Homo sapiens: one gene and its partner. The protein of the gene in region 1 interacts with the protein of each later gene in a pairwise test. Each region holds a gene or a part of one and is shown on either strand. Other genes may lie near its edges.

Evidence for each region.
Region 2: the proteins of CLEC2D (region 1) and TSPAN4 interact in binary tests that used the Homo sapiens proteins (3 or more experiments, as listed by UniProt).

What each region holds. Positions count from the first base shown.
Region 1 is NC_000012.12:9,693,564-9,696,882, forward strand, and holds part of CLEC2D (C-type lectin domain family 2 member D), read left to right. Parts: intron 1-1,196; coding exon 1,197-1,311; 3' UTR 1,312-3,319. UniProt on the Homo sapiens protein: Receptor for KLRB1 that protects target cells against natural killer cell-mediated lysis. Inhibits osteoclast formation. Inhibits bone resorption. Modulates the release of interferon-gamma. Binds high molecular weight sulfated glycosaminoglycans.
Region 2 is NC_000011.10:849,273-852,921, forward strand, and holds part of TSPAN4 (tetraspanin-4), read left to right. Parts: intron 1-583; exon of another isoform or gene 584-756; coding exon of another isoform or gene 757-1,032; coding exon 1,033-1,095; intron 1,096-3,649. UniProt on the Homo sapiens protein: Structural component of specialized membrane microdomains known as tetraspanin-enriched microdomains (TERMs), which act as platforms for receptor clustering and signaling.

The DNA of each region.
Region 1 (3,319 bases):
AATAAAAAGAGCCCCAGACTGGACATTGGCAGGTTTGAAATGAGTTTTTTCTCATTAGCTTTTGACCTTGGATGGGATGGTAAGTTTTAGAAATCAGAGAACATGTACATTTATACATTGTTGTATCTACACTGCCTTGCACATTGTGACTGCTTCATAAATATCTAGAATTAACTTTTATTTCTTATTTTACAATACGGAAGTAGTAAATTTTCTCTACCTAATTCTTAAAATGGTTTTTTGTTTGTTTGTATTTTTGAGAGACAGGGTCTTACTCTGTTACCCAGGCTGGAGTGCAGTAGTACCATCGTGGCTCACTGCAGCCTTGACTTCCCTGGCTCAAGTGAGCCTCCCATCTCAGCCTCCTGAGTAGCTGGGACTACAGGTGTGTGCCACCTTGCTTGGCTTTTTTTTTTTTTTTTTTTTTTTTTTCAGCGATGGGGTCTCACTATGTTGCCTGGGCTGATCTTGAACTCCTGAGCTCAAGCAATCCTCCCACCTCGGCCTCCCAAAATGTTGGAATTACAGGTGTGAGCCACCATGCCTGGCCTCTCAAAATATTTTAAGGATCAAATATATTATTAACTAACCAGTTTTTGGAAACTGCTCATCACTTAAAGAAATGTAAAATATTATATGATTAAGGTCTAACAAGTTTCAACAATTAGCAAATTATATCATAGATGATAGTGATTCCAATGAGCAAAGAGGAAAAATTTATAATCCAAATGCTGACCTAAAATATCTGTGCCAAGCCATCTAAACTCAGCTAAATAGCACTGCAGTTTCAGTACTAAAACCACCAGGGAAGTAGGAGGAATAAAATCAAGCATGGTTTTTAGAAATAGCTGCTGAGTCTTCAGTTATTTAAGGAAGCAAAATATTGGGAAACTGTGTAAAGAAAACGTGTCAGACTTCTCCCATCAGCCAGCTAAGGCTTTGGATGTACTTGAAAGAATATTATGCTTACAGACATGAAATAGGTTTGATTCAGGACTTTGCAGTATTCCTATAGTTGATTTATAACATCTCCTGCTAAGCAAAGCCCACTGACTAATTAGTCACCACTACACAAGGAAAAACAGCATTATTTTTAGAGGCTGAATTAATGTTAGTTTTCTCATTTTCTCATCTTCATTCTCTCTGCTGTTGAAGAAATGTTCAGTGGCCAACTGATTCTGCTTCTTCTCTTGCAGGTTTCCTATCCTGGGAGCAGGAGAGTGTGCCTATTTGAATGACAAAGGTGCCAGTAGTGCCAGGCACTACACAGAGAGGAAGTGGATTTGTTCCAAATCAGATATACATGTCTAGATGTTACAGCAAAGCCCCAACTAATCTTTAGAAGCATATTGGAACTGATAACTCCATTTTAAAATGAGCAAAGAATTTATTTCTTATACCAACAGGTATATGAAAATATGCTCAATATCACTAATAACTGGGAAAATACAAATCAAAATCATAGTAAAATATTACCTGTTTTCATGGTGCTAATATTACCTGTTCTCCCACTGCTAATGACATACCCGAGACTGAGTAATTTATAAATAAAAGAGATTTAATTGACTCATAGTTCCACATGGCTGGGGAGGTCTTGCAATCATGACAGAAGGCAAATGGGAAGCAAAGTCATGTCTTATGTGGTGGCAGGCAGGGGGACTTGTGCACAGGAACTCCTATTTATACAACCATCAGATATCTTGAGACAAGAACAGTATGGGGCTCCCTGGTGTGATTCCGTCCTGCGCGGCTGTTCTCTGGAGCAGCATTCATTTATCTTCGTCTGCCTTGTCTCCTACCTAAGTGTGTGTCGCCACCCGATGGAAGATTCGATGGACATGGACATGAGCCCCCTGAGGCCCCAGAACTATCTTTTCAGTTGTGAACTAAAGGCCGACAAAGATGATCACTTTAAGGTGGATAATGATGAAAATGAGACCAGTTATCTTTAAGAACGGTCAGCTCAGGGGCTGGTGCAAAGGATGAACTGCACATTGTTGAAGCAGAGGCCATGAATGACGAAGGCAGTCCAATTAAAGTAACACTGGCAACTTTGAAAATGTCTGTACAGCCAACGGTTTCTCTTGGGGGCTTTGAAATAACACCACCAGTGGACTTAAGGTTGAAGTGTGGTTCAGGGCCAGTGCATATTAGTGGACAGCACTTAGTAGCTGTGAAGGAAGGTGCAGAGTCAGAAGATGAAGAAGAGGAGGATGTGAAACTCTTAAGTATATCTGGAAAGCAGTCTGCCCCTGGAGGTGGGCAGAAAAAAGTAAAACTTGCTGCTGCTGCTGATGATGATGATGATGAAGATGATGATGATGATGATGACGAGGAAGCTGAAGAAAAAGCGCCAGTGAAGAAATCTATACGAGATACTCCAGCCAAAAATGCACAAAAGTCAAATCAGAATGGAAAAGACTCAAAACCATCATCAACACCAAGATCAAAAGGACAAGAATCCTTCAAAAAACAGGAAAAATCTCCTAAAACACCAAAAGGATCTAGTTCTGTAGAAGACATTAAAGCAAAAATGCAAGCAAGTATAGAAAAACGTGGTTCTCTTCCCAAAGTGGAAACCAAGTTCATCAATTATGTGAAGAATTTCTTCTGGATGACTGACCAAGAGGCTATTCAAGATCTCTGGCAGTGGAGGAAGTCTCTTTAAGAAAATAGTTTAAACAATTTGTTAAAAATTTTCCATCTTATTTCATTTCTGTAACAGTTGATATCTGGCTGTCCTTTTTATAGTGCAGAGTGAGAACTTTCCCTACCATGTTTGATAAATGTTGTCCAGGTTCTATTGCCAAGAATGTGTTGTCCAAAATGCCTGTTTAGTTTTTAAAGATGGAACTCCACCCTTTGCTTGGTTTTAAGTATGTATGGGATGCTATGATAGGACATAGTAGTAGCAGTGGTCAGACATGGAAATGGTGGGGAGACAAAAGTATACACGTGAAATAAAACTCAGTATTTTAATAAAGTAAAAAAAAAAAAAAAGGTATGGGGAAAACTGCCCCCATAAAGCAATTGTCTCCACCTGGCCCTGCCCTTTGCATGTGGAGATTATTACAATTCAAGGTGAAATTTGGGTGGAGACACAACCAAACCATATCAGATGGCTATATCAAAAAGACAAGAAATAACAAGCATTGGTGAGAGTGTGGAGAAGACGGAACCCTTGTACACAGTTGGTGGGAACACAGTTTGGTGCAGCCATTATAGAAAACGTCATGGAGGTTCCTAAAGAAATTAAAAAGAGAACTACCATATGAGCCAGCAATCCCTTTTCCAGATATACACCCAAAGGAAATGAAAT
Region 2 (3,649 bases), on another chromosome or scaffold:
TCCCATATAGTCAAAGACTCAACGACACCTGCTCCATGCAGTGCAGGCTGACCCAGCCCCCCACCCGCCGCCGGCACTCAGGGCTTCCCCAAGGGCGCCCGGGGCGGAGCCGCTTCAAGTTGCCACCAGACAGCAACGGGGTCACCCTCCATTTGCGTAGTGCTTTGAGTATCGTTCTCGTGGTTGGAGGTCTCCAAGCCCGGCCCGGGGCCAGAGTCCGGGCGAGGTACCGTGGGGGGAAGGGCTGGGGGTGTCGGTCGCGGGCTAAGAGCTGCCCAGGTTTCATCCCCAGGCCCCGGCCCCGGCCTCCAGTCCCCTCAGGCGCCCTTCGCGAGCATCTTCCTCCCGCGCGCGAAGGTGGGGGGGCTGGGGCGCCGGCGCGGGCGAAGGGGCCGGGGTCGCGGCTGGTGCGTTGCCGGGGGCTGCGATTGGTCCGCCCAGGCGGAGCGCTGGGGTTTGCCGGGCGGTGCGGCGAGGAGGGGAGGGGTCCGCGCGGGGGCGGAGCCGCCGGGGATTGGCCGGGAGGGCGCGGGGCGGGGCGCGCGGGGTCGGGGGCGCGGGGGCCGCAGCGCGCGGGCCGGGCAGATGTTTGGGTTCCGCCGCCGGGGTCCGAGCGGATCCGCGCGACCCGCTGCCACCGCGGGGGCCAGAGCGGGAGCAGGAGCGGGGCCGGAGCAGGCGCCGGCCGGCGGGATGGGGCGTTCCGGGGCGGCGGGTGCGGGGCGCTGAGCGGCGGCCCCGGCACACCCGGGCGCGATGCGCCGCTCCAGCACGGACGAGTCCACGTACCGGCGCAGCCCCTCTCCGGAGGGCAAGGAGCCGGACTTCGCGCGCGGCGGCCCCTTCCGGCGCTACAGCAGCCTATACGGGCGCGCGGGCGGCGGGGACGCCGGGGGCTCCTTCTTCGGCCTGCACGCGAACCCCGGCCCCAAGGCGGCCCAGGCGCGCTACACGTCGCCCAAGGGCAACAAGTACGTGGTTTTCTACCTGGACCTCTCCTTCATCTTCCTCCTAGAACTGAAGCGCTGCGGCATGGCGCGCGCCTGCCTCCAGGCCGTCAAGTACCTCATGTTCGCCTTCAACCTGCTCTTCTGGGTGAGTCCGGGGGCCGGGGTGGGGGCCCGGGAAAGACCCGGGGTCCCTCCCGCGGCGGGTCGCGGGGTCTGGGGAGTCGGAGTCGCTGCCCCGGCCAGGCGTTGGGTGCGGTTGTGGGGATGGTCCCGGGAGGACCCAAGACCGCTGCTCCGGCTAGGAGCCTGGACTGGGCGGGTGGGGAAGGTTTGCACCATCGCGGGGTCCGCCCCCTGCACTCAGAGCGGCTGCCCCACGCCCTGGTCCCCTCTCCTCTCCTCTCCTCTCCTCACTTGATGAGACGGGACACGTTGCACACGTGCGCGCCGGACAGGGCCACCCGGGCACTGCGCCTCTCCTAGGGTCGGGGTTCGAGTCCGGGTCGTGGCCAGTTTTGCGCGGGGCCCCGGTGCCTCCTCTGCGCCCGCTCCCTCCTCGGTGCAGCCGTTATCCTTGCCTCGGCCCCGCCCCTCCAGGCAGGCGACCTGTCGGGCCCAGGGACTCACTTCCGAGGGTTTGAGCCGGCTGCCGCCAAGGTCCCCCAGTCGCCGGGAGGCGCTGCGGAAGGGAATCCTGGACACTGAGCAGGGCCGTGGGCCATCAGTGTTCGCGGGAGACACTGGCTTTCCCGCGCCTCCGGCAGCAGAGGCTTCCCTAACTTTTGCGGAGGTGGGGTCAGGTGTGCTCAGACCTGCAGTGGTGTCCGGGGGGGCCCTGTGTGCTGGATGGAGCAGAGCTGAGGTAGAGGGCGGACAGGGTTCCACCCCACCCCAGCCCCATGTCAGCAAGAGGTGGGGCAGGATTCCCACCTGGCCAGGTTGGAGCAAGCCTCATGGAGCCGCGACCCTGTCCTGTCCCTGGCTCCTGTGGAGGGCAGCTGCAGTTGGGGGTGGCCGAGGATGACCTGGACCGGGCCTGGGGCTTTGCTGGCTGGGCTGGGGGAGGTGAAGTGATACCAAGGTCATTCTGTGCCCTATTCTTAATTCCTGAACCAGCTCCTGCAGCTGGGAGTCGGGGGTGTGGCCTCAGCTCCTGCCTAGGCTCTGGGCTTCAGAAGGAGGCTGTCCATCTGCATAAGGTCCAGCTGGGCCAAGTGCCCAGAAGCCTGGGTCTGCCTTCCCACCTCTCCCCTCCTGAGCCCAGGCTCCTTCTCTAGCCAGCTTGGGGTGGAGGCAGGGGGGTCCCTGGGAGGGACAGCCAGCCTGGGTTGCCTGCTGAGTGTGACCCAAGGAGGCTCTTGGCCCAGACATCCACCTCCAGAAGGGGTCACCCAAGGGTTTGTTTTCTGCAAGAGGCTCTGGAGGGGTGAGGCCCAGGCCTGAGGGGCGCCTTGGAGGTAGGGGTGGTGGGAGGTGTGGGTGTGGTCTGGAGCTGGTGGGTGTGGGGGGTGGGCTGCAGGTGGCTGAGTGACCAGAGTGTTTCTGTGACGGGGGGACGGGGCAGAATGACTGAAGGGCAGTGGGTGTGGGGGCCCGGCAGGCAGGCAGGCAGGTCCTGGGAGGGGAAGCCCTCTCTCCTCTCCACCCTCCTCCTGTCCTCCGTGGCCTGGACACCTGCCTTCAGGGAGAAAGAAGAGGGTCCTTTCCCAGGGGGGGTCTCTCTGCTCTGAGAGCAGCCCGCCCTCATGGAGGACCCCCAGGTGGACCTCTCTTTGCTCTGTGAACCCCAGAGAAGCCTCCATTCCTACCGCATGGCAGACACACTCCCCCATCCTCAACCTGGGAAAGAACACACAAGGAACCCCCTTGGGACCCTATTCTGGGCTGGAAAATGCAATTCTCTCTTTTTTATCTTTGTTTTTTGAGATAGAGTCTTGCTCTGTCGCCTGGAGTGCAGTGGCGTGATCTTGGCTCACTGCAACCTTCCATCTCTGGGGTTCAAGCGATTCTCATGCCTCAGCTTCCCGAATTGCTGGGATTACAGGCGCGCATCACCACGCCTGTCTAATTTTTGTATTTTTAGTAGAGACAGGGTTTCACCATGTTGGTCAGGTTGGTCTCGAACTCCTGACCTCGTGATCCGCCTGCCTCGACCTCCCAAAGTGCTGGGATTACAGGCGGCCCCAATTATTTTTTATTAATCAATCACCACCTTCCCGCCAGTCCAGCAAACTGGAGCCCCGCTGGCTTCATACACCAGCCTTGGCCCCCCCCAACCCTGGGCTGGTGCCCAGTGGGGGTCTAAGGGTGGGGGCGGGGCAGGGGAAATAAGAATGAGTGGGGGTTTTGCCAGGAGAGTCTGTCCCGGGCTGATGTCCACGCCTGCTGTGCCCTGAGTCACTGTGAGCTAAGCCCTCTCCTCCTGGCGTGAGGCTATTTCAGGAGTCAGGCCTAGCGCTCCCCTTCCCCAGGGCTCCTTTCCTTTTGGGGGTGCCAGCCCCCTGTTGTCGGGGCTTTTGCCGCCCACTCCATTTCCTACTCGTTGGGAGACCAGGGGATACAACCTGGCCTCCTCCTCCTCCTCCTCCGTCTTCTCAGGGGCGAAGTTCAGGGGTTAAGGTGGTGGGAGGGACGTCCCCCCGGCGGGACCTCAAGATCCCCGCGTGTGTCTGTCCTGACCCCCCGCTGCCGGAGTCCTG